Linked DNA regions of Homo sapiens. The protein of the gene in region 1 interacts with the protein of each later gene in a pairwise test. Each region holds a gene or a part of one and is shown in the gene's direction. Other genes may lie near its edges. The genes, in order: PECAM1, EGFL8, AP1S1 and SKIL.

The links.
Region 2: the proteins of PECAM1 (region 1) and EGFL8 interact in binary tests that used the Homo sapiens proteins (3 or more experiments, as listed by UniProt).
Region 3: the proteins of PECAM1 (region 1) and AP1S1 interact in binary tests that used the Homo sapiens proteins (3 or more experiments, as listed by UniProt).
Region 4: the proteins of PECAM1 (region 1) and SKIL interact in binary tests that used the Homo sapiens proteins (3 or more experiments, as listed by UniProt).

What each region holds. Positions count from the first base shown.
Region 1 is NC_000017.11:64,373,839-64,380,860, reverse strand, and holds part of PECAM1 (platelet endothelial cell adhesion molecule precursor), read left to right. Parts: intron 1-2,743; coding exon 2,744-3,037; intron 3,038-5,504; coding exon 5,505-5,810; intron 5,811-7,022. UniProt on the Homo sapiens protein: Cell adhesion molecule which is required for leukocyte transendothelial migration (TEM) under most inflammatory conditions.
Region 2 is NC_000006.12:32,160,266-32,167,603, forward strand, and holds the start of EGFL8 (epidermal growth factor-like protein 8 precursor), read left to right. Parts: upstream 1-4,329; 5' UTR 4,330-4,392; exon of another isoform or gene 4,393-4,416; intron 4,417-5,872; 5' UTR 5,873-5,900; coding exon 5,901-6,001; exon of another isoform or gene 6,002-6,232; coding exon 6,233-6,355; intron 6,356-6,435; coding exon 6,436-6,545; intron 6,546-6,644; coding exon 6,645-6,740; intron 6,741-6,821; coding exon 6,822-6,992; intron 6,993-7,084; coding exon 7,085-7,164; intron 7,165-7,237; coding exon 7,238-7,338. Other genes in the region: lysosomal thioesterase PPT2 isoform b precursor, read left to right, coding at 2,303-2,357, 2,542-2,685.
Region 3 is NC_000007.14:101,149,831-101,157,494, forward strand, and holds the start of AP1S1 (AP-1 complex subunit sigma-1A), read left to right. Parts: upstream 1-4,645; 5' UTR 4,646-4,684; coding exon 4,685-4,687; intron 4,688-6,763; coding exon 6,764-6,942; intron 6,943-7,546; coding exon 7,547-7,655; intron 7,656-7,664. UniProt on the Homo sapiens protein: Subunit of clathrin-associated adaptor protein complex 1 that plays a role in protein sorting in the late-Golgi/trans-Golgi network (TGN) and/or endosomes.
Region 4 is NC_000003.12:170,374,703-170,381,724, forward strand, and holds part of SKIL (ski-like protein), read left to right. Parts: intron 1-6,541; coding exon 6,542-6,639; intron 6,640-7,022. UniProt on the Homo sapiens protein: May have regulatory role in cell division or differentiation in response to extracellular signals.

The sequences.
Region 1 (7,022 bases):
TGCATGCCACAATGCCTGGCTAATTTTTGTATTTTTGGTAGAGACGGGGTTTCACCATGTTAGCCAGGCTGATCTCGAACTCCTGGCCTCCCACAGTGCTGGGATTACAGGTGTGAGCTGCCATTCCTGGCCTTATCCAGCCACCTTTCTAAACTCACATTTATTTCTAATAATTTGTCTGCAGACTCTTTGAGGTTTTTACATATCATGTCATCTGTCTTTGAGAGTTTTAAACATTGGACTGCTCCATTCACTCAAAAATTTTAAAAAATTCCATGATTGCATTATTCATACTTCATGGAGATAGATGGGGGGCTAAGAAAGCATACCAGACATAGTCACTTTCAATCCCAGGTCCAAATGCTGGATAGGTAGCTTCCTTGAGAATGGGCATGGTAGAAATTTCTGGGGGGACGTGTAGGGATTTGGGAAAAACACCTGGTTTTATGGTCATGGACTTTCAGTACATTTTTTTCCAAATCCCCTACAGATCAATTACTTTTTCTCTTTTTTATACTTATTTAATTTTTTTTAGATGGAGTTTCGCTCTTGTTGCCCAGGCTGGAGTGCAATGGCGCGATCTCAGCTCACTGCAACCTCTGCATCCCGGGCTCAAGCGATTCTCCTGCCTCAGCCTACTAAGTAGCTGGGATTACAGGCATGTACCACACCCGGCTAATTTTGTATTTTTAGTAGAGACAGGGTTTCACCATGTTGGTCAGGCTGGTCTTAAACTCCTGACCTCAGGTGATTCACCCACCTTGGCCTCTCAAAGTGCTGGGATTACAGCCGTGAGCCACTGCGCCTGGCCTCTTTTCTTTCTTTTTTTTTTTTTTGAGACAGGATCTCACTCTGTCACCTAGGCTGGAGTGCACTGGCATGATCATGGCTCACTTCAGCCTCGACCTCCCAGGCTCAGGTGATCCTCCCACCTCAGCCTCCTGAGTAGCTGGGACTACAGACACATGCCATCATGCCCAGCTGATTCTTTTGTATTTTTGTAGAGTCAGGGTTTTGCCATGTTGCCCAGGCTGGTCTCGAACTTCTGGGCTCAAGCGATCCTCCTGCCTCGGCCTCCCAAAATTCTGGGATTACAGGTGTGAGCCACTGCACCTAGCTTCATCCATATTTTTTTTAGCCATGTATAGAACATGAGATGTTTGAAGTTGTTTTCTGACAGGAATTTGGAGAGTGAATATTTTATGGTGCTGATTAAACCCAGATTCATGTGCTTGGAAAAGACAACCACAGGGAAGCTAGTGAGTGCTTTGAGATATGTCAAGGGGTAAAACTAAGACCACAAGTGGGCTGCAGAAGCACCTACAGGCATTGCCAAGAGGATCTCCAAAAAGCAGTTCACCCTGGTCTGCTCTGAAGTTTGGATACAAGTCCTGACCCATGGGCATGGTTCAGGATCTTCTAGCCTGGAAAATTTTCAGGGCAGTTGCCCACAACCAACCAACTGACAAAAACACAGCAATAGCTAGAGAGCACCCAATTTTAAGCAATCCACCCTTCCGTCAGCCTGCTACTGTGAATGAGCCTCAATATGTGATCTGTAGTTAGCTGAATTCTATTGACAGCCTATGGTTACTGGATATAAGCCAATTCTGTTCTGGGGACTTGCCAGAAATGACACAATTGGCCAGTTGACCCACAGCCTAGTTCCTAGCAGAGATTGGATAGCTGATTGAGCATTGTGGCTGTTTTGAGGCTTGACCAGAGATTCCTGCCGTTGGCAGAGGGGAATCTGTAGTCTTTGCTTCTTGGTAGCAGGTGAGGCTGAAAACGCAAGTAGCAGGCTAAAAACTGGTTTCAAGTCCTCACCATCTGGTGAAACCTCAGAGCCCATCAGATAGAAAATGCCAGCTGGGACTGTGCTAATTCGGTAAGGCCTGGGTGGAGAAGGAGGGCCTGGGCACGACCATCTGGTTTCGGAATGGAGGTAGCAGTCATTTATTAAGCACTTAATGTATATCGGGCACTGTACAGGAGACGTTCTGGCTGTTCTCCTGTACATTTCCTGCAAAGACCTAATGAGATATGATTACTCCATCCTACAGGTAAGGAAACTGAGCTCAGAGAGTCTAGCTGCCCAGGGTCACACAGTAAATGATGAGCCAGGACTTGAACACTTGACTGCTTGAATCCTGTACTCCCTCCAGGGGCCAAGATGTGGCAGCTCACAGAATGCCTATATCTTTTTTTTTTTTTGTCTTTTGAGACAGTCTCACTCTGTCGCCCAGGCTGGAGTGCAGTGGTGAGATCTCACCTCACTGCAACCCCCGCCTCCCAGGTTCAAGTGATTCTTGTGCCTCAGCCTCTCAAGTAGCTGGGATTACAGGCCTGCACCACCAAACCTGGCTAATTTTTGTATTTTTAGTAGAGAGGGGGTTTCACCATGTTGGCCAGGCCAGTCTCTAACTGCTGACCTCAGGTGATCCACCCACCTTGGTCTCCCAAAGTGCTGGGATTATAGGCGTGAGCCACCATACCTAGCTCTACATCTTTATCACACTCTGTTCCTTTGCCTTGGTGGGAAAAGTTGCAGCTTAGTACCAACTGCCTCCTGCTTGAGCCACTGTGCACAGTTACTATCAGCCTGGCCCTGTAGGCACGTAGAACCCCTGGACTCAATACTGCATAGGATGGGATAAGACCACATCTGATGTGGTGAAGGTCACCGGGATGATGTTGTTTCTGAGATAACAGGTATGTCTGCCTTCCTTCCCTTTGCATTTAGCTTTCACAATCAACAGTGTTGACATGAAGAGCCTGCCGGACTGGACGGTGCAAAATGGGAAGAACCTGACCCTGCAGTGCTTCGCGGATGTCAGCACCACCTCTCACGTCAAGCCTCAGCACCAGATGCTGTTCTATAAGGATGACGTGCTGTTTTACAACATCTCCTCCATGAAGAGCACAGAGAGTTATTTTATTCCTGAAGTCCGGATCTATGACTCAGGGACATATAAATGTACTGTGATTGTGAACAACAAAGAGAAAACCACTGCAGAGTACCAGGTGTTGGTGGAAGGTGAGTCCTTGGAACTGAGCACAGGCAAGCAGATGGAGCATAGCACACAGTGGCGTGAATAACAGCTGTGAATGAATAGTGACACTGGACTTAACTCTCCACCCATCACCCTCTCATTCATCTGCCTGGCATTTTCCTTACCTGAATACGTAAGCACTAGACATATTCCCAATAGGCCAGGCCCTTCCTTCCTTCCTTCCTTCCTTTCTTTCTTTGATGGAGTCTCACTCTGTCACCCAGTCTGGAGTGCAGTGGTGTGATCTCGGCTCACTGCAACCTCTGCCTCCCAGGTTCAAGCGATTCTCCTGCCTCAGCCTCCCAAGTAATTGGGATTACAGGTGTGTGCCACCACACCTGGCTAATTTTGTATTTTTAGTAGAGATGGGGTTTCACTGTGTTGGTCAGGCTGGTCTCGAACTCCTGACCTCAAGTGATCCACCTGCCTTGGCCTCCCAAAATGCTTCTTCATCTCGTCTCATAAATTAAAATTTCTTCTTCAAGACTCAACTCAATGATGTCTTCTCTTTCCAAAACAAAATGGGTCTACCCCAGGGTGCCAGTCAGTACAGCTCTGATGCTCTCTCTACATTCAATGGTATTTGTGTGTATAAAGGCCACAGCGGTGTGTTAAGACACCTCGTTCTGCAGTCACTCTGCCTGGGTTTCAATCTGGGCAAGTCCCTTAACAGCTCTAAACTTCAAAATCCTCACCAGTAAAAGGAAGATAACAACGATACCCATTTCAGGCAATTATTGAGAGGGTTAAAAGTGTCATGTGGGTAGAGTGCTTAGCAAAATTTCCAGCACCTAGTGAGTTCCTAATAAATAGAAATGTATTTATTTATTTTGAGACAGAGTCTTCCTCTGTCACCCAGGCTAAAGAGCAATGGCGCGACCTTGGCTCACTGCAACCTCTGTCTCCTGGGTTCAAGCGATTCTCCTGTCTCAGCCTCCCAAGCAACTGGGATTACAGGCACGCGCCACTGTGCCTGGCTAATTTTTTGTATTTTTAGTAAGGATGGGGTTTTACCATGTTGGCCAGCCTGGTCTCGAACTCCTAACTTCAAGTGATTTACCCACCTTGGCCTCCCAGAGTGTCAGGATTACAGGTGTGAGCCACCATGCCCGGTCCACAAATATTCTATTTCACTCAGTATTGCCATCCATTCTTACACATCTGTCTGCTCTTCTGGATAGTGAAATTGTAAAGACAGAGATGGTGTTTGGTTTATTCTTATATCTTGAACAATGAATGTGGCTCATAGTAGGCATTCAGTCAATGTTCATGGAATAAATTAAAGTCAGTCCTAGCCTGTGGCTGCATTCAATAAAGGGTAACAACAATCACAGTGACACTGACAAATACTGGCTACCTTTCCCCTCTAAGCATCATCTGTTGGGAATCTGATTGTGTCCTCTTCCCAATAGGATTATAAACCATTGAAAACACCAAGTACATCTTGACCATATTTTATTTTTTAAATTTATTTATTTATTTATTTATTTATTTATTTATTTTTAGACAGAGTCTCACTCTGTTGCCCAGGCTGGAGGGCAGTGGCACGATCTCAGCTCACTGCAACCTCTGCCTTCGGGGTTCAAGCAATTCTCCTGCCTCAGCCTCCCAAGTAGCTGGGATTACAGGTGCCTGCCACCATGCCCGGCTAATTTTTTGTATTTTTAATAGAGATGGGGTTTCGCCATGTTGGCCAGGCTGGTCTCAAACTCCTGACCTCAGGTGATCCACCTGCCTCAGCCTCCCAAAGTGTTGAGATTACAGATGTGAGCCACCTCGCGTGGCCTTAGTGGTGATTTTGGTGGACCCATCACCCGAGCAGTGTACACTGTACCCAGTGTGTAGTCTTTTATCCCTCGCTCCCTCCCACTCTTTCCCCTGAGTCCCCAAAGTCCACTGTATCATTCTTATGCCTTTGTTTCCTCATAGCTTAGCTCCCATTGAGCATATTTTATATTTTTTCCTTTCTTTTCTTCTCTTTTTTGAGACAGGGTCTCTGTTGCCCAGGCTGGAGTGCAGTGGTGGGATCACTGCTCACTGCCGCCTCAACCTCCTCGGCTCAGGTGATTCTCCCACCTCGGCCTCCCAAGTAGCTGGGACTACCAGTGCACACCACTAACTACCCCTGGCTAATTTTTAATTTTTTTTTTTGTAGAGATAGCATTTCACCGTGTTGCCCAGGCTGGTCTCCAACTCCTGGGCTCAAGAGATCCACCCACCTCAGCCTCCAGATTTTATATATTTCAAAGTGCCTAGTACTGTGCTGGGCACATACCTGTTCATTTATTACCTGGTAGGTCGCACTGGGTGTTCAGAGAACAAAAAAGAGCCCTCTCATGGGTCAACTACAGTCACTCAGCGGAGGGAGGCTTGTGTCTCTCAATCAGGCTGATACTGACAGACTTTCTCTTCAATCAGGCTGATACTGACAGACTTTCTCTTTCCCCGTAGGAGTGCCCAGTCCCAGGGTGACACTGGACAAGAAAGAGGCCATCCAAGGTGGGATCGTGAGGGTCAACTGTTCTGTCCCAGAGGAAAAGGCCCCAATACACTTCACAATTGAAAAACTTGAACTAAATGAAAAAATGGTCAAGCTGAAAAGAGAGAAGAATTCTCGAGACCAGAATTTTGTGATACTGGAATTCCCCGTTGAGGAACAGGACCGCGTTTTATCCTTCCGATGTCAAGCTAGGATCATTTCTGGGATCCATATGCAGACCTCAGAATCTACCAAGAGTGAACTGGTCACCGTGACGGGTCAGCATCCTGCTCCCTTCCTCATCGTTCTTTGTGGTTTCTGGTTTGGTATGGGGAGAAAGAACCCAGAACTGGGAAGGGGCTGCTGTTCTCAGGACTTAAGACCTGTTCTTAATCATTTTAAGCCAGTATTTTTCAAGCTTTTTTGACTGTTATACAGTTAAATTGCATACAATTTTTCAGACAAGAGTTTCACCAACAACACTTTACTCTTAATATATATGATGCTTTTTGTTTGTTTGGCTTGGTTTTTGGGGTTTTTTTTTTGAGACAGAGTCTCGCTCTGTCGCCCAAGCTGGAGTGCAGTGGTGCAATCTTGGCTCAGTGCAGCCTCTGCCTCCCGGGTTCAAGCAATTCTTATGCCTCAGCCTCTGGAGTAGCTGGGATTACAGGCATGCAGCACCACACCTGACTAATTTTTGTATCTTTAGTAGAGATGGGGTTTCGTCATGTTGGCCAGGCTGGTCTCAAACTCCTGATGTCAGGCGATCCACCCGCCTTGGCCTCCCATAGTGCTGGGATTACAGGCGTGAGCCACCACCCCAACCTTGTGTGTGTTTTTGAGACAGGGTCTTGCTCTGTTGCCTGAGCTGGAGTGCAGTGGCATGATTTCAGCTCACTGCAACCTCCGCCTCCCAGGTTCAAGCGATTCTCCTGCCTCAGCCTCCTGGGTAGCTGGGATTACAGGGGCATGCCACCATGCCTGGCTAAATTTGTATTTTTAGTATAGACAGGGTTTTACCATGTTGGCCAGGCTGGTCTCAAACTCCTAACCTCAGATGATCTACTCACCTCGGCCTCCTAAAGTGCTAGGATTACAGGCGTGAGCCACCGTGCCCAGCCTATTTCAGTCTTTAAACACTGGCCATGACACACTACACTGATGCATTATGTGATCTGTAGTTTGGAAGCCACTGCTTTAAGCCATCGAGGGTCAGACACCAGGAAGTTGGGTTTGGAGGGGATCGGGAGGAAAGAGGGGCCAGGTCCTCAGCCTTGGCCTCCTGTTGTTCAACGTAGATTTGCGTTGGACAAACAGCAAACAAATGAGGTGGCCTGGGAAATGCTCCCAGGAGAGAAGGAGGCAACAGCAGAGGGAAGCTGGGGAGTGTCCAGGACATACAGGGCTCTAGGACAGGTAGTCAGCCACTCCCAGGACCCGGTCTCATTTGCCAAGCCGGGAGAAGTCAGGGGAAGGCACACCCATGTAGA
Region 2 (7,338 bases), on another chromosome or scaffold:
CGATCTCCTGACCTCGTGATCCACCCGCCTCGGCCTCCCAAAGTGCTAGGATTATAGGCGTGAGCCCACGCACCCGGCCTTGCCTGGCCAATATTTTTTAATTAAAAGATTTTAACTCCATCTGGCTGGGTGCGGTGGCTCACGCCTATAATCCCAGCACTTTGGGAAGCCGAGGCGGGTGGATCACCTGAGGTCAGGAGTTCGAGAACAGCTGGCTAACATTGAGAAACCCCATCTCTACTAAAAATACAAAAATTAGTGGGCCTGGTGGCGCACGCCTGTAGTTCCAGCTACTCAGGAGGCTGAGGCAGGAGAACTTGAAACCAGGAGGCGGAGGTTGCAATGAGCCGACAGGGTGCCACTGCACTCCAGCCTGGGTGACAGAGCAAGGCTCTGTCTCAAAAAAAAAAGAAAAAAAGGATTTTAAGACCTTTCTATTTTGAAATAATTTCATACTTAAGAAAAGTTTGCGCCTGTAATCCTAGCACTTTGGGAGGCCGAGGCATGAGCCCAGGGGTTTGAGACCAGCCTGGGCAACATGGCAAAACCCTGTCTTTACCTAAAATACAAAAATTAGCTGGGCGTGGTGGTGTGCCCTTGTAGTCCCAGCTACTTGGGAGGCTGAGGTACGAGAATTGCTTGAGCCTAGGAGGCCAAGGCTGCAGTGAGCCGAGATCTCACCATTGCACTCCTGCCTGGGTGACAGAGTAAGACCCTGTCTCAAAAAAAAAAAAAAAAGTTACCAAAATAGCAAAAAGCAGTCATTTATACTCCTCACCTAGATTTCGCAAATGTTAACATTTTGTCATGTTTACATTAATATCTTTTTTCTCTAAATATATATACATTTATTTATATACGTTAATGTTATATTTAAATATAAACATAGATTCAAATTTTCCTGAATATGCGCTCACAGATTATTCAAATTTTTCCAACTGTCCTTACAGAAAAAAATATACAGTGGAAGATCCAAATCAGGATCTTGAGTTGCATGATCTTGTTACGTCTCTTTAGTATCTTTTTGTTTGTTTGTTTGTTTGAGTTGGAGTTTCACTCTTGTTGCCCAGGCTGGAGTGCAATGGCAAATCTCGGCCCACTGCAACCTCCGCCTGCCAGGTTCAAGTGATTCTCCTGTCTTAGCCTCCTGAGTAGCTGGGATTATAGGCGCCCACCACCATGCCCAACTAATTTTGTATTTTTAGTAGAGACGGGGTTTCTCCATGTTGGCCAGGCTGGTCTTGAACTCCTGACCTCAGGTGATCCACCCTCCTTGGTCTCCCAAAGTGCTGGGATTACAGGCATGAGCCACCACACCTGGCCTCTTTTTTTTTTTTTTTTGAGACAAAGTCTCACTCTGTCGCCAGGCTGGAGTGCAGTGGCGCCATCCCGGCTCACTGCAACCTTTGCGTCCCAGAATCAAGCAATTCTCCTGCCTCTGCCTCCTGAGTAGCTGGGATTACAGGCGCCCACCACGCCCAGCTAATTTTGTATTTTTAGTAGAGACAGGGTTTCTCCGTGTTGGCCAGGCTGGTCTCGAATTCCTGACCTCAGATGATCCACCCTCCTCGGCCTCCCAAAGTGCTGGGATTACAGGCTTGAGCCACCACGCCCAGCTAATTTTGTATTTTTAGTAGAGATGGGGTTTCACCACGTTGGCCAGGCTGGTCTTGAACTCCCGACCTCAGGTGATCCGCCGGCCTTGGCCTCCCAAAGTGCTGGGATTACAGGTGTGAGCCACCTCGCCCGGCCAGTAATGCATTTTTGATGGGGTTTCTACAGAAGTGAGGTCGTATCTTCAGTGTATCACCTCATGAAGTACATTATATCCAGTAAGGTAGTTTTGAGTGTCCTCCCTGCTACCTGTCTCCCCAGTAGGCCTTGGGTTCCTTTGGGACCTTAGCCCACCTTGATTTCTTCCTTTCTTTTTTCCTTTTCTTTTTTCTTTCCTTTTTCCTTTCCTTTCCTTTTTGAGATGGGGTCCCGCTCTGTCACCCAGGCTGAAGTGCAGTGGTGCGATCTCGACTCAATGCAACCTCCACCTCCCGGGTTCAAGTAATTATCCTGCCTCAGCCTCTTGGGTAGCTGGGCTTGCAGGCATCTGCCACCATGCCCAGCTAATTTTTGTATTTTTAGTAGAGATGGGGTTTCACCATTTTGGTCAGGCTGGTCTTGAACTCCTGGCCTCAGGTGATTTGCCCTCCTTGGCCTCCCAAAGTGCTGCAATTACAGGCGTGTGCCACTGCGCCCGGCCAGATTTTCTCCAGCTCTTCTGATAACCTCCCCCCAAATCTCTTTGTAGCTTCTTTGGTTTCTATGATGCAAATGAGACCGTCCTGGAGATGGAGGAGCAACTGGTGAGCCCCCTGGGATTACTTCCCCTTCTAGCCGCTGTCCCACCTTATTCCAGAGCCCTCTCTGTGACTCCTGAGCTGAAGGGTTCACCCTGTGGGGAGGAGGTCCAGGATCCCAGCAGTAACTCACTTTGTCTCTCCTTGTGTCTCTCTTCCATGCTTCCACGCCCCTTCGACCACCTTGAAGGTTTATCTGCGGGATTCTTTTGGGTTGAAGACTCTATTGGCCCGGGGGGCCATAGTGAGGTGTCCAATGGCCGGTATCTCCCACACAGCCTGGCACTCCAACCGTACCCTTTATGAGACCTGCATTGAACCTTGGCTCTCCTGAGGATATATTCAGGGGTCCCCAGGAACTCCTCGGTCCAGAGACCAAGTGGTGGCCTTGGAAAGCAGATGTCAGGCTTTGGTGTGCCTGTGACCACCTCATTGCTCCCATATTATCCCCCATTTTTAGTAGAGACGGGGTTTTAGTAGAGACTTGGCCTCCCAGAACCCCCTTCCTCTGCTCCTCCATGAATGACAATTCCAGGCCTCCCCTACCTCATGTCCTCTCATTTGGGGGATTGCTCCGTGCTGTCCCTTTCTCTCAAGGCCGAAGTTGGGAAGTGAGAAACCATGTTTTTAACTTGTGGCTGCTTTTGCTGCTGCTGCTCCTCCGTATCTGGCTGTATGGGTGGAGAACCCACCCCCTGCCCACCACAGGGGTCTCCTTCCAGGCCACTCAGGACATTTTTAGCTTCTCTCCTCCCCATGTTCCCTTTTTTCTCTAAAGTCCCCTGACATCAGCCCTCCCAACTCCTAAGAGGGACTACCCATGAGAGTGGGGTTCTGAGGCTCCCCTATGGGGACAGTTCCGTTCTTGAAGTGTCAGTGTTGGGGAATATCTGTGGCCTATGAGGCCCATCTCAGGTTTGGGGATCCCCCAGTCCCTATGATCAGTGTTGGAGTACCCCCCTGGGAGAGCCTAGTTTCTTTGAGGCCCCAGGCCCTCTTTTAACTACCTTTGAATAGGTGTTATCCCTGTATTTATGGAAATAAAGTTCCATTTCCTCAGTGTGACTTGGCTCATTTCCAGGTGGAGGGGACCTGGCTCCCCAAGGAGGGTGGGGGTGGAGCCTGAGGCCTGGGTGCCCAGATGCCTGGTCTAGGGTGGGGACCCCCTTGGTGTTTCCGCTCTCTCTCAATGCCCATTCTTTGTGGGTTCCTGGTTCTCTGCGGGTTCTTTCCTGCTGAAGACAATTCTCTTCCTCTCCCAGTCCCCAAGACTGGGGGGTTAAGCTCAGGGCTCCAGTGGTTTGGGCCTCAGCCTCATGGGTGGAATGCGCCTGCCACCCCCAGGCTAGACGAGGGGGCAGAGGGTCAGGGTGGGCATTCGTTGTGCCGCTTTTGAGCTTTGTGGGCCAGAGCTGGGTGTAGGGCTGGACAATGAGCCTCCTCTTCCTTGAAAGAAGGAATTTTGGCTGAGACAATAGGGCCCTGTCTGTTCTGGCATGGGGGGTGGTGGCTGACTCAATTCTGTTCCCCCTAAGCCCTAACAAATGTCATGAAGAGAGGGGGGCAGTTTTCCCCTTGGTGCCCTGGGCTGCCCCCCTGCCCCTTTGTGACGACTTGCCCTTCTAGCTTTCCTCAGCTGATCTTGCTTTTTCTCCCATAACCTGAACTGCTTTGTTCCCTGCAGCTGGTTCTCTCCCTGCCCCCTAACTCTCCCCTAGTCTGTTTTGGGTTCAAGGGGGTACTGGTGGTGTTACAGAGCTCATAGCTTCTGATCTGGGGAGTCCAGAAATAGGGGCCTCAGAGGGTTGGAAAGATACTTCTAGGGAGCCCTTTGCTGGGGTGGGGATGAGGGTAGTGGGACTTGACCCTACTGAGCTGACCCTGCTGGAGCTAAGGAGGAGGCTTGTGGGAGGGGGCAGGAATGGGAGGACTCTCTGGCCCAGCCCCTCCTCTCCTTCTTAGCCTGCCAGGCCCACCCACCAGTCTGAGCTGCTTCTGCTGAGGCTGGTCTGCTTGAAGCCTCCCAGGAGAAAGAAGCCAGGTGGGAATGGAGAGAGAGAGGAAGGCAAGTGGGGAGAGAATTTCAAATGGGGAAAGAGTGGGGTTTACTCAGAGCCTTAGGGTGGGCATGAGTTGCGGGGTGTTTTGTTGGAGCAAGGGATGTGCATTTAGGGCGTTATGTGACGGTGTGGGTATATGAGGGGAGTAGCAGTGTGTGAAAGGTGTGGAGTTTCCAGGTGCTTGGTTTGTGTGTACGGTGTGAAGGTATATAGCTAGGGGTTTTTTTTGTTTGTTTGTTTTGTTTGTTTTTTTGAGACGGAGTCTTGCTCTGTCGCCCAGGCTAGAGTGCAGTGGCATGATCTTGGTTCACTGCAACCTCTGCCTCCAGGGTTCAAGGGATTCTCCTGCCTCAGCTTCCCGAGTAGCTGGGATTACAGGCGTCCACCACTGCGCCTGGCTAATTTTTTGTATTTTTTAGTAGAGATGGGGTTTCACCATCTTGGCCAGGCTGGTCTCGAACTCCTGACCTCATGATCCACCCACCTCAGCCTCCCAAAGTGCTGGGATTACAGGTGTGAGCCACCGCGCCCAACCAGCTAGGGTTTTGAAGGTATGAAGTTATAAGAGGGCATGTTAAAGACAGGAGGGTTGGCCAGGCATGGTGGCTCACACCTGTAATCCCAGCACTTTGGGAGGCCAAGGCAGGCGGATCACCTGAAGTCGGGAGTTCGAGACCAGCCTGACCAACATGGAGAAACCCCGTCTCTACTAAAAATACAAAACAAAATTAGCCGGGCGTGGTGGCAGGCGCCTGTAGTCCCAGCTACTCGGGAGGCTGAGGCAGGAGAATGGCATGAACCCGGGAGGCGGAGCTTGCAGCAAGCCGAGATCGCACCACTGCACTCCAGCCAGGGTGACAGCGAGACTCCGTCTCAAAAAACAACAACAAAAAAAAAACCAAAAAAAAAAAACCCTAGCTATATACCCTCACACCCTACAAAACAAAACAAAACAAAATTAGCCAGGCGTGGTGGCGCATGCCTGTAATCCCAGCTATTTGGGAGGCTGAGGCAGGAGAATCACTTGAACCTGGGGGGCGGAGGTCGTGCGGTGAGGCAAGAACATGCCATTGCATTCCAGCCTGGGTAGTAAGAGCGAAACTCCTTCTCAAAAACAAAAACAAAAAAAAACCCAAAAAAAGACAGGAGGGTCATAAGGGGAGGGTTGACTGTGTGTCCCTCCAGGTTGTGCAGAGGGGATTAGAAGTAAGTAGGTTAGAGGGGAGGTGGAGGGAGTGTGCTGGGGTGTGAGCTTTTATGATGCTGAAAGGATCATGATATGCTAAGGACAGGATAGTGTTGGGTTGTACACACAGGTGTAGGCAATCCTGGTGGCTAGTATGTAAAAGTGAATGTCCTGACTCCCTTAGAGGGTACCTGCAGAGTGCCCTTGGAGGGACTAGTGCTGGAGAAATTAATAGGAGAGGGGACGGGCATCCATTAACCTTTTCTTGCCTGCAGCCTGTAGGGTCCAGCGTCAAAGCGAATCATGGGGTCCAGGGCTGAGCTGTGCACTCTCTTAGGCGGATTCTCCTTCCTCCTGCTACTGATACCAGGCGAGGGGGCCAAGGGTGGATCCCTCAGAGAGAGGTGACAACAGAGGGGGTAGGGCCCGGGGTGAGCTCTTCTCAGGAGCCTTCTGCTGGGGGTGGGGCTTCACAGGAGGCAAAACATAACTGTAAGTTTAGAATGGGGGTGAGAGGCTGTCATCTGGAGGGAGAGCGGGGGGCCTCAGTAGCCTCTTGAGGGAAGTGGGACTCCTGGCTCCCCAGGGCCTGGCCTACTCAATCTCTCCCACCTCATCCTCTGGCATGGACGCAGTCAGGGAGTCTGCTCCAAGCAGACACTGGTGGTCCCGCTCCACTACAACGAGTCCTACAGCCAACCAGTGTACAAGCCCTACCTGACCTTGTGCGCTGGGAGGCGCATCTGCAGCACTTACAGGTGAGGGATGGGGAGATGGGACCCCAAGAACCCCAACTAGGACCCGTACTCAGGGTCCTGAGCCGGGCGCTGTGTTCCAGGACCATGTACCGCGTTATGTGGCGGGAGGTGAGGCGGGAGGTTCAGCAGACCCATGCAGTGTGCTGCCAGGGCTGGAAGAAGCGGCACCCGGGGGCGCTCACCTGTGAAGGTGAGGCTGGGTCTTCCGGGCCTTGCGGGAGGCGCGCCCCACGGAGCTGGGGAGCTGGGTCGTCGGTTTGAGTCTGAACCCCACTTCCTCTGTCCTCAGCCATCTGCGCCAAGCCTTGCCTGAACGGAGGCGTCTGCGTTAGGCCTGACCAGTGCGAGTGCGCCCCCGGCTGGGGAGGGAAGCACTGTCATGTGGGTGAGTCAGCTTGTCCTCCCCACCTACCCAGGTGCTTGCCCCCGCCCCCTCTCTCAGCCCCTTCCTTTTTTCGGTAACTAGACGTGGATGAATGTAGGACCAGCATCACCCTCTGCTCGCACCATTGTTTTAATACGGCAGGCAGCTTCACCTGCGGCTGCCCCCATGACCTAGTGCTAGGCGTGGACGGGCGCACCTGCATGGAGGGGTCCCCAGAGCCCCCAACCAGTGCCAGCATACTCAGCGTGGCCGGTGAGTGGGCAGGAGTACGGGCCACCCGAGGGACTCGGGACGGGCGTCCGGGCTCGGGTAGTGGTCACACTCTTGGTCTCCTTTGTCCCTAGTTCGGGAGGCGGAAAAAGATGAGCGCGCTCTGAAGCAGGAGATTCACGAGCTGCGAGGGCGCCTGGAGCGGCTGGAGCAGGTGAGCCAAGCCTGCTGGGTGGGGCGAGGCCAGACGTCACTGTCAATACCCTGAGGCATCTCTTCCTTTCTAGTGGGCCGGTCAGGCTGGGGCCTGGGTCAGAGCGGTGCTGCCCGTGCCGCCTGAAGAGCTGCAGCCAGAACAGGTGGCTGAGCTGTGGGGCCGGGGTGACCG
Region 3 (7,664 bases), on another chromosome or scaffold:
CTTGACCTACAAATGATACCAGGTGAAGGGGTGGGTTGCCCCCCACACCTGTGGGTGTTTCTCGTTAGGTGGAACGAGAGATTTGGAAAAGAAAAAGACACAGAGACAAAGTATAGAGAAAGAAATAAGGGGACCCAGGGAACCAGCGTTCAGCATATGGAGGATCCCGCCAGCCTCTGAGTTCCCTTAGTATTTATTGATCATTCATGGGTGTTTCTCCGAGAGGGGGATGTGGCAGGGTCACAAGACAATAGTGGGGAGAGGGTCAGCAGACAAACACGTGAACAAAGGTCTTTGCATCATAGACAGGGTAAAGAATCAAGTGCTGTGCTTTTAGATATGCATACACATAAACGTCTCAATGCTTTACAAAGCAGTATTGCTGCCCGCATGTCCCACCTCCAGCCCTAAGACGGTTTTTCCCTATCTCAGTAGATGGAACGTACAATCGGGTTTTATACCAAGACATTCCATTGCCCAGGGACGGGCAGGAGACAGATGCCTTCCTCTTGTCTCAACTGCAAGAGGCATGCCTTCCTCTTATACTAATCCTCCTCAGCACAGACCCTTTACGGGTGTCGGGCTGGGGGACAGTCAGGTCTTTCCCTTCCCACGAGGCCATATTTCAGACTATCCCATGGGGAGAAACCTTGGACAATACCTGGCTTTCCTAGGCAGAGGTCCCTGCGGCCTTCCGCAGTGTTTGTGTCCCTGGGTACTTGAGATTAGGGAGTGGTGATGACTCTTAAGGAGCATGCTGCCTTCAAGCATCTGTTTAACAAAGCACATCTTGCACCGCCCTTAATCTATTTAACCCTGAGTTTGACACAGCACATGTTTCAGAGAGCACGGGGTTGGGGGTAAGGTCATAGATTAACAGAAACTCAAGGCAGAAGAATTTGTCTTAGTACAGAACAAAATGGAGTCTCCTATGTCTACTTCTTTCTACACAGACACAGTAACAATCTGATCTGTCTTGCTTTTCCCCACAACCAGGATAGTCCAGCCAGCTAACTGTCTGTGCCATCTTATTCTTGACCTAATAAATAGCTGCCGGGCTTGGTGGCTCACACCTGTAATCCCAGCATTTTGGGAGGCCGAGGCGGGTGGATCACGAGGTCAGGAGTTCGAGACCAGCCTGGCCAACATAGTGAAACCCCGTCTCTACTGAAAATACAAAAATTAGCTGGGCGTGGTGGCATGCACCTATAATCCCAGCTACTTAGGAGGCCGAGGCAGGAAAATCACTTGAGCCCAGGAGGTGGAGGTTGCAGTGAGCCGAGATCACACCATTGCAGTCCAGCCTGAGCGACAGTGCAAGAGTCTGTCTCAAAAAAAAAAAATAAATAAATAAATAAATAAGTAGCACCACAATAGTTCAGGCAGCCAATAATCTATGCCACTGGTAAGATATTCCACTAGTATATGTCATATATCTTAGACGATGGTGTTGAAAAGCCTAAGGTGGAGGCAGAGGAGAAAAGAAAACAAAAGCAAAAGGAAGAAGAAAAAGTAAAAGAAGAAAGAAGTTGGGCCCGGGCGCGGTGGCTCACACCTGTAATCCCAGAACTTTTGAGAGGCCAAGGCAGGCAGATCACTCGAGGTCAGGAGTTTGAGACCAGCGTGGCCAACGTGGTGAAACCCCATCTCTACTAAAAAAATAAAACTTAGCGGGGTGTGGTGGTAGATATCTGTAGTCCCAGCTACTTGGGAGGCTGAGGAAGGAGAATTGCTTGATCCGGGGAGGTGGAGGCTGCAGTGAGCCGAGATCGTGCCACTGCACTCCAGCGTGGGCAACAAGAACGAGACTCCGTCTCAACAACAACAACAACAACAAAAAAAAAAAAAAAAAAGGAAGAGTCTGGGAAGAGGAAATGATAGGTACCATTATGAAGTGTTTACAGATACTTGCTATACATTACCTCTAATCCTCAGAACCACCTTGCAAGATATGTACTACTGTCCTCTTTTTTTTTTTTTTTTTTTGAGACAGAAGGCTGAGTCAGGAGGCTGAATCAGGAGAATCACTTGAACCCGGGAGGTGGAGGTTGCAGTGAGCCGAGATTGTGCCACTGCACTCCAGCCTGGGCAACAGAGCAAGACTCCATCTCAAAAAAATAAATACACAAAATAAATAAATAAAGTGGAGACAGGAGGTGAGGCCTTACCAACAATTGCATCATGTGCTACTCAAAAATAATAGCACATTAGTTGCCAACAATTATCTACCATTAACTTTTCTGCATGACAAAATTTAAGATTTTCTCTTATCCTTCTATCCAGACCTCTTTACTTTATCATTTGTGCTAGGGAAGCAGGAGCCTCAGAGAGCCAGCATAAAGCCATTTTAAGTTCAGCTCCATCTTGAAACTAACAAGGCACATTCCTTGTCAGTCACAACCCAAAGCTGTTTACAGTTGGGGAAACAGCTTAAAGATACCTGCAAGGACAGACTCCTCCAACTACAGAAAATCCAGATGCCCCAATACCCATAACAATATGTGCCTTTAAGATAATTATAGTTCTGGCTGGGTGTGGAGGCTAAGGCAGGATTGCTTTAGGCCAGGAGTTCGAGATCAGCCTGGCCAACATTGCAAAACCCCCTCTCTACTAAAGATACAAAAATTAGCTGGGTGTCGTAGCACATGCCTACAATCCCAGTAGTGAGACCCCATCTCTACAACAAAATATTTTTTTAATTAATTGGATGCACTGGTTCATGCCTGCAGTCACAGCTACTTGGGAGGCTGAGGTGAAAGGATGTAGCTGTAATCCAGCTATTAGGGATGCTGAGACACAAGAATGGCTTGAACCCAGGAGGTGGAGGTTGCAGTGAGCTGAGATCACGCCACTGCACTACAGCCTGGGCAACAGATCAAGACTCTGTCTCAAGAAAAAAAAAAAAGGAAGAAAGATAATTAAGTTTTGCTTTGATGTACTTACCTACTAGAATGTCAAGGATAGTTAAATTAACAGAATAATAAATTTTGTCATGCCATTGGCCCATCTGCACATTGACTCGGCTTAGTTTAGTCTCTACAAAAACAAGACCCCTATATAAGAAAAACTTAAAGGTCAGGGGCGGTGGCTCATACCTGTAATCCCAACACTTTGGGAGGCTGAGGAGTGTGGATACCTTGAGTCCAGGAGTCCCAGACCAGCTTGGGTAGCATGACAATACCCTGTGTCTACAAAACATACAACTATTAGCTGGCTGTGGTGGTGCATGCCTGTAGTCCTAGCTACTTGGGAGACTGAAGTGGGAGGATCGCTTGAGCTCAGGAGGTGGAGGCTGCAGTGAACTATGATCATGCTACTACACTCCAGCCTGGGCAACAGAGTAAGACCCTGTCTCAAAAAAAGAAGAAAAAAAAAAAGAAAGAAAGAAAAGAAAAACTTAAGACAGTGTGTTCCTCTGTTTGCTTTCTGAGGACGCCCTACTCCGTAAGGGTGTAGCTTTCAATAAACTCTCTCTTCTCATCGCACTCTACGACTTGCTTTGGGTTCCTTCCTGCATGAGATCCAAGAATTCTCTCTTGGGGTCTGGATCGGGACCCCTTTTTCCAGTAACATGTAGACACACACACACATTCAGTTTAAAAGCCCATATTACAACGTACATCCACCTCATCTTCACACTGAGATTTGGGTGACATCTGTCCCTTTTTGAGTTTTGACCCAAGTTAACCTTTTAAGACGCTCTTTATTTCTTCCCCTTTTGCCTCAGTTCACGTTCCTCCCCCTTCTCCTTACATGCCTTTTATAGCAGCCTCTCCTTTTCTCTTTTATTCTTTTTCTACACATTTCTCTTACTGTAAAATCAGAAGCCAGGCGCGGTGGCTCACGCCTGTAATCCCAGCAGTTTGGGAAACCGAGGCGGGAGGGTCTCTTGAACCCAAGAGTTCGAGACCAGCCTGGGCAACATAGTAAGACCCCCGTCTCTACTAAAAAAAAATTAAAAATTAGCTGGGCATGACGGTGTGCGTCTGTAGTCCCAGCTACTCAGGAGGCTGAGGCGGGAGGATCGCTTGAGGCCAGGAGTTCAAGGCTGCAGAGAGTCACGATCCCACCACTGCACTCCAACCTGGGTGACGCGGCCAGACCCTGTCTCTAAAAAGAAAAAAACTAGAGGGGTGTATCTATCACGCTTTCAATAGATATTCAGCTTGGGTTCTATACTTTTCTCATGACCCTTTGTCTTTCTGTTTTCCAGGTCACTCCTCCTCCCCTACACTTAATTCCCACCCTGCTCCCTTTTCACGGCCCACTCCCCTTCCAGGAGTCCTGCCTGCTGCTTCGAACTCCAATGATCGTCCCATTCACCTCTCACCCCTTTTCCCGCCTTTTTGCCCCACAAGGCTCCAAAGCGCGAGGACCTTATTGTCCTCCTCCCCCATCCTCCAACCAGCCCACAGGACAGCCGCGTTACCATGACGACCGGGCTCCTAGAAGCTGCAGTCAAGGACCTGGTTGCCATGGTTTCCGCTTCTCCGCCTCCAGCCCCGCCCGCGCTCCCCGCGGCGTCGGCGCCTGCGCAGTGCGTGGCGCGCCGGGAGTCAGAGCCTGGGCGGGACGGGGCGGGGCTTCGGGCGAGAGGGAGGGCAGCAGGAGAAAGGATAAGAAAGGGAGTGGGACTGGCGCCTACGGTGGCCGAAGTGGGACGCGCCGAGCCGGAGGCTGCAGGATGGTAGGCTGTGCGAAGAGGGAGGGGAGGGGGAAGCGAGGGGCGTGGGCTGCACCTGCGGGGGTCCTCGGGGGCCGCCCTCGGGGTGAACCGCCCTGTCTTCCCTCTGGTCCTCAGAGGCCTCCCTTGCCTCGGCGGGTGGGCGAGCCGGGCTCGGGAGGAAGAGGGGGAGGTGGCATTCGGGAGAGGGGCGGGGAGGGGGCGCATTTGCAGGGCGAGCGGGGGCTGACGAAGGGGCGGCGGGGCCGTCCCGAGCCGGGAGGGGCGCTCTGGTCTTGGCCCCTGGGGTCCCTCGATCCCCGCTGCAGGGAAGCCGCCCGAAGCAGAGGGTTGCGGGAGTCTCTTTGCTGAGGGAGGGAGCGGGGGTCACCAGTCACCGAGACCCCCTTCCCGGGCTGCACAGGCGGGAGCGGGGACCCGGGTGGGGAGAGGGGTGTGGGAGGGGAGTTTCCGGGTCGGAAAAGGGAGCGCCCTACTGCGTTCGTGGCCGTGCTTGCCTAGAGGCTGGGCCCAGGTAGGGAAGCGAAGTGGACTCGTGGTTTTTCTCCGAGGGACCCAGGCTTTGGGATCCCGGGCTCCGGGGCTCTCTGCCCCCCTTCCCATTCTCTTTCCGGAATCCAGGCCTTCCGTCTTCCTGCTTGCTCCCCACCCCCCTATTTGAGCGCCGCACGAGGCTCCCCAGCGCCCCTCTTTTCCCCTCCACCAAAAAAATCAGTTCTCCTGAATTCTGATTTTTCACTTACTAAGCTAGTACAGTGCCACACACCCAGGGATTCCAAGCCTGGGCATGTCCATGAATAGAAGAGCTACTGGGGTAAGGAGAAGACTCCAGGATGTGGCCCAGACCCCCCGGAACTGGGAAGCTGGGGTACACTGGGCAGTGAGGGTTCTGTCTTCCATCCCACTTGACCCAGCTTGCTGTCTGTTCTGCAGACATTCTTTTAGGGGAACCCCCTGGGTGGCGGGGCCCTAACTGAGGGAAATTGGTCACCTGGTGTCTGGGGAGGAGTGGGCGCTTAGCAGGAGGCACCCTAAAAGGAAGAAAAGTTAAAGAGAAATGTCGAAGACCAAATGCCTGGGTGCCTGCAGAGAGGAAGATAGGATTTGGGCATCTGCATACCCTGTGTGGTGTTGGAGATACATACTACAGAGGAGGATACCCCTGGGCATAGGCCTGGCACTGGAGGATGATATGTTTGGGAGATCATTAAGATCTTATGGCTATGATGGGGTGGAAAATTGAGGTAGCTTCTCCAGGGACAAAATACCAGATTTCAGCATGGTGATGGATAGAGAGAGGGTGGAAGAGAACAGGCATTTCTTTGGCGTCGGTTACTGTCGTCTTGTCACTGTGCTAGGCATTTTACTTACCTTTAGAAAGCAGACCAGAAAGCAAGAGGTCAGGGAATCATGGTAATAATAGTAATAACTAACGGCCGGGCGCAGTGGCTCATGCCTTAATGCCAGCACTTTGGGAGGCCTAGGTGGGTGGATCACCTGAGGTCGGGAGTTCGAGACCAGGGCCTGGCCAACATGGTGAAACCACATCTCTACTAAAAATACAAATATTAGCCGGGCGTGATGGCACGTGACTGTAATCCCAGCTACTCAGGAGGCTGAGGCAGGAGAATCGCTGGAACTTGGGAGGCGGAGATTGCACTGAACAGTGATTGCGCCACTGCACTCCAGCCTGGGCGACAGAGAGAGACTCTGTCTCAAAAATAATAATAATAATAGCTAACATGTTATACTGCCTGCCTGTGCTAGGGACTTGCATATATCAAATCATTTAGTCTCACCTAACAACTGTGCAAGGCAGGTACAATGTCCATTTTACACATAAGGAAACTGAGGCCCAGAGACTTACAGTAGTAATTGGGCCAAGGCCTTGCATAACTAGTAGAGCCAGGATTTGAACCCAGCTGACAGACTCAGAAGCTCTGACTTCCCCCTGCTGGTGGAAACACCCAGCCTTGAGAGCAAGGGGCTGGATGTTGGAAGAAAGTAGAGAAGAATTAGCTGGAGATAAGTTTGGGGAATGTGTGGTTACCCTCGGTTCTGCCCTCCCATCCCCCACAGATGCGGTTCATGCTATTATTCAGCCGGCAGGGAAAACTGCGGCTGCAAAAATGGTACCTGGCCACTTCGGACAAGGAACGGAAGAAGATGGTGCGCGAGCTCATGCAGGTTGTCCTGGCTCGAAAGCCCAAGATGTGCAGCTTCCTGGAGTGGAGGGACCTCAAAGTTGTCTATAAGAGGTGACTCCCCACCTACTTTCAGACCTGCCTAGATTCAAGTTGGGCAGTGGGTTAAAATGTCTGAGAAATGGTCGTCCTGTAGGTCAGGGAGACCTGGGAGCTGAGGACATCTGGAGGACAGTAATGAATGTCAGCTTCCTTTTTTTTTTTTTTTTTTCTCCCCAAACTCTTAAAGAAGTTCTTGTTTACCACTTGGTTTTGCTCACGTGCAACACCTGCCTCACTCACGTGTCCCTTTGGGCCCTGTCTTGCCCCACTGCGCATGTCCCTTGCAGTCAAAGGTCCTGCCCTACTTTTCCTAACACACACGCACACACACACCCTTTCCGGTTCCTTCTCCTCGGAGCAGGTAAATTACTTGGCTCAGGTTTTTGCTGAGTCAAACTTAGGAGGTCAGAGGGCAGGAAGGAAAAAGCATGCGTTCTTTGCATGTTTTTAAGACAGCACAAAGAGGCAGGTGAGTTACTCTTTACATGCCCTAGGGCCACCTCACCTGTGGCCAGCCAGGGCACAGACCACCTCCAGGCTGGTGAGAGGTTTGAGACCAGAATGCCTGGGTCCTGAAGCAAGCTTGTAGCGATGTCTCATGCGCTCCTCTCCGCAGATATGCCAGCCTCTACTTCTGCTGCGCCATCGAGGGCCAAGACAATGAGCTCATCACACTGGAGCTGATCCACCGATACGTGGAGCTCTTAGACAAATACTTTGGCAGTGTAAGTCTC
Region 4 (7,022 bases), on another chromosome or scaffold:
AATTGTTTTTAACATACAGTTAGGATAATTTGTTATAAATGTGTTTATGGCTTACCACAGCATATTAGGTAAAATTAGCTTGCAACATTTTATCATGGTTAGTGTTGTGCGTGTCCCCATCATTTGTATTGTTTAATTTATATCTCTGAAAAATGCAGCCTTAGAAACTGTTGGGCTTCCTTGGTGCTTCATGGAGTAGAGGGATATCAAACGTGAAAGAGACCAAGAGTTTTGTGGTAGCAGAATAACCTTGTAAAAGGCTACCTTGGGAATTAATGAGCTGCACTGTCATTCAGAATTCATTCAACAAATAATAGATATTTGATAGATGAGTCCCTACTACATGCTAGGCATATAGTGCTAGGTATTAAAAATACAAAGGTAAGGCTGGTTCTTGACCTCAAGCTGCTGTTTAAGCAGAGGCTGCGTAGCCACTTAACAGGGATTTTAAATAGGGAATTCAGACATTGGCTAGGGGACTATGCTAGGTGATCTTTAAGATTCCTTAGAAGCTCTAGTCTGACTCTTACTGGGTTGGTCAAGACTAGGAAATAAAATAAAGAATAGGAGCTAAGAGGGATGACTGTTTAAAAATAAAGGAATGTGCTAGCAGTTATTTAAGGTGGCACCTGAAGTTTAGAGACACAGAAATAAATAGATGCTAGGTTTGGCTCATGAGTAAAGATAAAACTTACTCTTATAAATCAAACTGTAGGGTTTTGAAATGAACTTGATCAAAATTGAGTCAGATTTCAAGTCAAGGTCTTTGAGCAAATTTAGAATTTGCTTGATATTCTGAAGATTTGAGATTCCAGTATTCATTATAGGAAAAACTTTGAAATATATAAATCAATTTTAGTAATTTTATATTTTTTTCTTTTTCTTTTTTCGAGACAAGCCCCACACTGTTGCCTAGGCTGCAGTGCAGTGGCAGGATCATAGCTCACAGCAACCTCAAACCTGCCAGCTTCAACTGATTCTCCCACCTCAGTCCCCTGAGTAGCTGAGACTACAGGCATGCGTCACCACGGCTGGCCAATTAAAAACAATTTTTTTTGTAGAGATGGGGGTCTCTCTATGTTGTCCAGGCTGGTTTCGAACTGCTGGACTCAAGCAGTCCTTGTGCCTTGGCCTCCTAAAATTCCGGGGCTATAGGTGTGAGCCACTGGGTAGGGCCAATTTTAGTAGTTTTAATTTAAAAAATCTGGAAACAATTGATTTCTTGGGCAGTACATCTAGAATTCTTTCAGATATAACACTTATTTAAAGAGGAGCTTTCTTTGTTTTTTAACAAATGATGTCTAGAAAAGAAATTCTCATTTAATTCAAGCTGATTTTCCTTTTTTTTTTTTTTTTTTTTTTTGAGACGGAGTTTCACTGTCTTGCCCAGGCTGGAGCGCAGTGGCGCAATCTCAGCTCACTGCAACCTCCACCTCCTGGGTTCAAGTGATTCTCCTGCCTCAGCCTCCCGAGTAGCTGGGATTACAGGGATGCACCACCATGCCCAGCTAATTTTTTTTTTCTTATTAGAGATGGGGTTTCACCATTTGGTCAGGCTGGTTTCGAACTCCGGACCTCAAATGATCCACCCACCTCGGCCTCCCAGAGTGCTGGGATTACAGGTGTGAGCCACTGTTCCTGCCCTCAAACTGATCTTAAATTTTACTGATTTGTTAGAATGAACTTATCCTCGTTCATTGACACCTCTTTGGTCATGTAGAGCTGGGGTGCAAAATGTTCTACCCGTTAAGCTACTTTTTAAAAGCATTGTGTTTTTTTAAAAAACTGTTTTCATGAATTGTAAAATGTCTGAAAAAGTTTTGAATCTAAGTGGTATACAGAACATAATTTAGCTATGTCACGTTGACTCAAGAGTTTTTATTTTTTTAACGAGACAGGGTCTGGCTCTGTCACCCAGGCTGGAGTGCCATGGAGCAATCTCAGCTCACTGCAACCTCTGTTTCCTGGGCTCAAGTGATCCTCCTGCCTTAGCCTCCCAAGTAGCTGGGACTACAGGCACACATCACCTTGCCTGGCTAATTTTTGTATTATTATTAGAGATGGGGTTTTGCCTTGTTGCCCAGGCCAGTCTCAAACTCCTGAGCTGAAGCAGTCTGCCCACTTTGGCCTCCCAAAGTGCTAGGTAATATCACAGATGTGAGCCGTTGCGCCTGGCCAACTCAAGATTCTTAAACATTAATTACCATACTTTGTTGAATTGGGGTAGGGGACAATTGAGATATATTAAATTATTTGCCCCGGTCTATGCTAAAGCCTTTACTCAGATTGTCTTGCTTTTTGAAGCAGTTTTTGTGTTTGCATCTTGTAATTTTCCTCTCTCCTTAGGCTGTCAGCTGTCACTTAGCATCTATCATTTAGTATTTCTGTTGCCAGAAGTCAGTTCCCTTTCTTACTGCTATAACTAAGCTATAGGCTGAGGAACTATGTAAATAAGTGATCAGTTTGTTTTATAAATAAGCAGTGGAATTTGCCCAGATTCTGAATATTAGTTCAAAATGTGATGTTTCGTTTTCTGTTTTCCTTTTTTTTTTTGAGATGGAGTTGCACTTTGTTGCCCAGGCTGGAGTGCAGTGGAGCGATCTCAGCTCACTGCAACCTCTGTTCCCCTGTTTCGGTTGATTCTCCTGTCCTCCTAAAGTGCTGGGATTATAGGCATGAGCCACTGTGCCCAGGCCTTTTTTTTTTTTTTTAATTCCACATTTACATATCATGTAGAGACCTTCACTGAATATTCAACTCTTAAATCTTTTAAAAATATTAATTTTTTTCTTATAATTTTGAGGTCTTATTAGTATTTCAAATTCATTGCTCAATAATTCTTTTTTTTTTTTTTTTTTTTTTTTGAGACAGAGTCTCACTCTGTCACCCAGGCTGGAGTGCAGTGGCACGATCTCGGCTCACTGCAACCTCCGCCCTCTGAGTTCAAGCGATTCTCCTGCCTCAGCCTCCTGAGTAGCTGGGATTACAGGCGCCTGCTGCCGCACCCGACTAATTTTTTTTTTTTGTATTTTTAGTAGAGACGGGGTTTCACCATCTTGGCCAGGCTGGTCTTGAACTCCTGATCTCGTGATCCACCCGCCTTGGCCTCCCAAAGTGCTGGGATTACAGGTGTGAGCCACTGTGCCTGGCCTAATTCTTAACAAAAATAAAGATCTCCCACATACATATTTTTTTCTTTTTTTATTTTTGAGACAGAGTCTTGCTCTGTCACCCAGGCTGGAGTGCAATGGCGCCGTCTCGGCTCACTGCAATCTCCACCTCCCAGGTTCAAGCGATTCTCCTGCCTCAGCCTCCTGAGTAGCTAGGATTACAGGTGCGTACCACCACACCTGGCTAATTTTTGTATTTTTAGTAAGACAGGGTTTCACTATATTGGCCAGGCTGGCCTTGAACTCCTGACCTCGTGATTTGCCTGCCTTGGCCTCCCAAAGTGCTGGGATTACAGGCGTGAGCCACTGTGCCCTGCCTATTTTTGTCCTTTAGTTGGCCCTAAGTCATCTCCTGACTGATCAGATTTTAAGATACATATTCTAAGAGCGGTTTCCTTTCTGTTTTCAGCCTGTTTTGTTGAGGGCAGTGGGTTACTTGTCAGATCTCTCCCAGGTTTCTTCATTCTCATTGATTTCCTCCATTAGTAGGATCTCAGTAATCAAACCAGAGTTTGGATAGTTTAGAGTTGATTTTGTTTTAATCACTACTGCTTAACATCCAGAGATCTGTTTGCAGTCCTTAGTTTCTTGGTTCCAAACTGGAATATTGGGACATCAGGCAAAACAGCTTTGCTACTTTCCTAATTTGTTGAATTGGGAATTGGACTCTCTCTCTCTCTCTTTTTTTTTTTTTTTGGAGACAAAGTCTTGCTCTGTCACCCAGGTTGGAGTGCAGTGGCGCGAACTCAGCTCACTGCAACCTCTGCCTCCCGGATTCAAGTGATTCTCCTGCCTCGGCCACCCAAGTAGGTGGGATTACAGGCACTCACCACCATGTCCAGCTAATTTTTGTAGAAACGGCGTTTCTCCATGTTGGCCAGGCTGGTCTCAAACTCCTGACTTCAGGTGATCCACCTCCCTCAGCCTCCCAAAGTTACAGGCATGAGCTGCTGCACCCGACCAGAATTGGAGCTTCTTTTATTTATTTATTTATTTATTTATTTATTTATTTTTTTTATCTTGAGATGGATTCTGGCTCAGTTGCCCAGGCTGGAGTGCGGTGGTGCAATCTCGGCTTACTGCAGCCTCCGCCTCCTGGGTTCAAGTGAGTCTCCTGCCTCAGCCTCCCGAGTAGCTGGGATTACAAGTGCGTACCACCATGCCCAGCTAATTTTTGTATTTTTAGTAGAGACTGGGTTTCGCTGTGTTGGCCAGGCTGGTCTTGCTCCTGACCTCAGGTGATCCACCCTTCTCGTACCACCACGCCCAGCTAATTTTTGTATTTTTAGTAGAGACTGGGTTTCGCTATGTTGGCCAGGCTGGTCTTGCTCCTGACCTCAGGTGATCCACCCTTCTCGGCCTCCCAAAATGCTAGGATTACAGGCATGAGCCACTGCGCCTGGCCATGGAACCTCTTAAAGGTAGGGTTTAGAGAAATATCCAGCTCTCTTTTTTGTTTTTTCCCTTGTTTAACTCGTTCCTAATCGCATTCTCCCTCAGTTTCCTGGGTTTGTCTGTTAACTTCCTATTTTTGTTGGTCACCTTAACCATGCCACATTTCAGCTCTCCTTTCCTTCTTTCCCCTTTCCCTTACCAGTGAGTCTTGCCCCCCCTTTTAAGTATCCTTTTCCCACAAAAGCAAGGTAATTTCGTATAATAGGAAATATGTAGGGGATGAAGGGAGGACAAAGTGTAAATAAAGTAAACCAAAATAAGGGAGAAGTTAGTAACCACAGATCATTTATTCTTTTTTTCTCTTCAATTTCTTTTTTTGTTTTGTTTTGTTTTTTGAGACGATTCTTGCTCTGTTGCCCAGGCTGGAGTGCAGTGGCATGATCTTGGCTCACTGCACCCTCCATCTCCTGGGTTCAAGTGATTCTCCTGTCTCAGCCTCCCGAGTAGCTGGGATTACAGGAGCGCACCACCATGCCTCGTTAAGTTTTGCGTTTTTAATAGAGATGGGGTTTTGCCACGTTGGCCATGCTGGTCTCGAACTCCTGACCTCAGGTGATCCACCCACCTCGGCCTCCCACAGTGCTGGAATTACAGGTGTGAGCCACTGAACCGAGCCCCTCTTCAATTTCTGAACGTCAGTTGTTTTCTCATCTGTAAAATGGTAATGATACCTATTTAATGGGGGATATTTGTTAGAATTAAGAATGATGTATAAAGTTCTCAGCCCGTAGATGTTCATTAAGTTACCAGTTACCTTTCTCCTTATTTTTCTTTATTTTTAGTTATAGCTCATCTTTAAGTATTAAAAAATCCTTTTTATATTTATTAGGAAATATAGTTTAATGACAAGTGTTAGCAAACTATGTGGTTTTGGATTTAATTTGGCAAAGTATTGCTGTAGAATGGTATCTAGCTAATATGCTAACAAATACTGTAGGGATAGGGTATAGTCTAGCCGATTGTAGTACAGGAATAAGAATCAATTTTCCAGTGCTATACCTTTATAGAGTTCTATTATTTAAAATGGATTTCTGGCCAGGCTCAGTGGCTCATGCCTGTAATCCCTGCACTTTGGGAGGCTGAGGAGCAGGGATCACCTGAGGTCAGGAGTTTGAGATCAGCCTGGCCAACATGGCAAAACCCAATCTCTACTAAGAATACAAAAAATTAGCTGGGTGTGGTGGTGGGTGCCTGTAATCCCAGCTACTCAGGATACTGAAGCAGAGAATCGCTTGAACCCGGGAGGTGGAGGTTGCAGTGAGCCAAGATCGCGCCACTGCACTCCAGCCTGGGTGACAGAGCGAGACTCCATCTCAAAAAAAAAAAAAAAATAAATAAATAAAATAGATTTCGTAAGTATGAAATTTGATGCAGTCATTTCTGGTACTCCATGTTAGCATGCATACTGAAACTGTTCTTGTGATGGGATAGTTCATGTGGGTGTCTCTGAGTTTCAGGTGATAATCAGGCTTCTTCAAGGGAAGACTGCCTTATTGGAAGATGACTCTTGAGACAGGGTCTCACTCTTGCCCAGGATAGAGTGCAGTGGTGCAATCATGGTTCAATCATGGTTCACTGCAAGCCTCAACTTCCTGGGCTCAAGGGATTCTCCCACCTCAGTCTCCCAAGTAGCTGGGACCACAGATGTACACCACTGCAACTGGCTAATTTTTTTTTTTTTTTTTTTAAAGAGACTGGGTCTTCCTATGTTGCCCAGGCTGACTCCACGGCTTAAGGAATCTTCCCCACTCTGCCTCCCAAAGTGCTGGGAATACAGGTGTGAACCACTGTGCGTGGCATGATGACTCTTAAATAATGTTAGTTGTCTTTACCCAGTGGCCCAGTCAGGTTGACACATAAAATTAACCTTCACAGTTTTACTTCAATAAATGTTTCCCTTCCATGTTTTTCTGCAGACAGATGCACCATCAGGAATGGAATTACAGTCATGGTATCCTGTTATAAAGCAGGAAGGTGACCATGTTTCTCAGACACATTCATTTTTACACCCCAGGTGAGTTGGTATTTATTTGTTCGTTTGTTCATTCATTTCTTCATTCAACAACTATATGCCATGCACTATTCTAGGACATGGGAATTTAATTATTTATTTATTTTTTTTGGTGGCAGAGTCTTGCTCTGTTACCCAGGCTGGAGTGCAGTGGCGCGATCTCGTCTCATTGCAACCTCCGCCTCACGGGTTCAAGCGATTCTCCTGCCTCAGCCTCCCGAGTAGCGGGGACTACAGGCTCACACCACCACGCCCTCCTAATTTTTTTAGTTTTAGTATAGATGGGGTTTCACAGTGTTGGCCAGGCTGGTCTCGAACTCCTGACCTCAAGTGATCTGCCTGCCTCAGCCTCCCAAAGTGCTGGGATTACAGGTGTGAGCCACTGT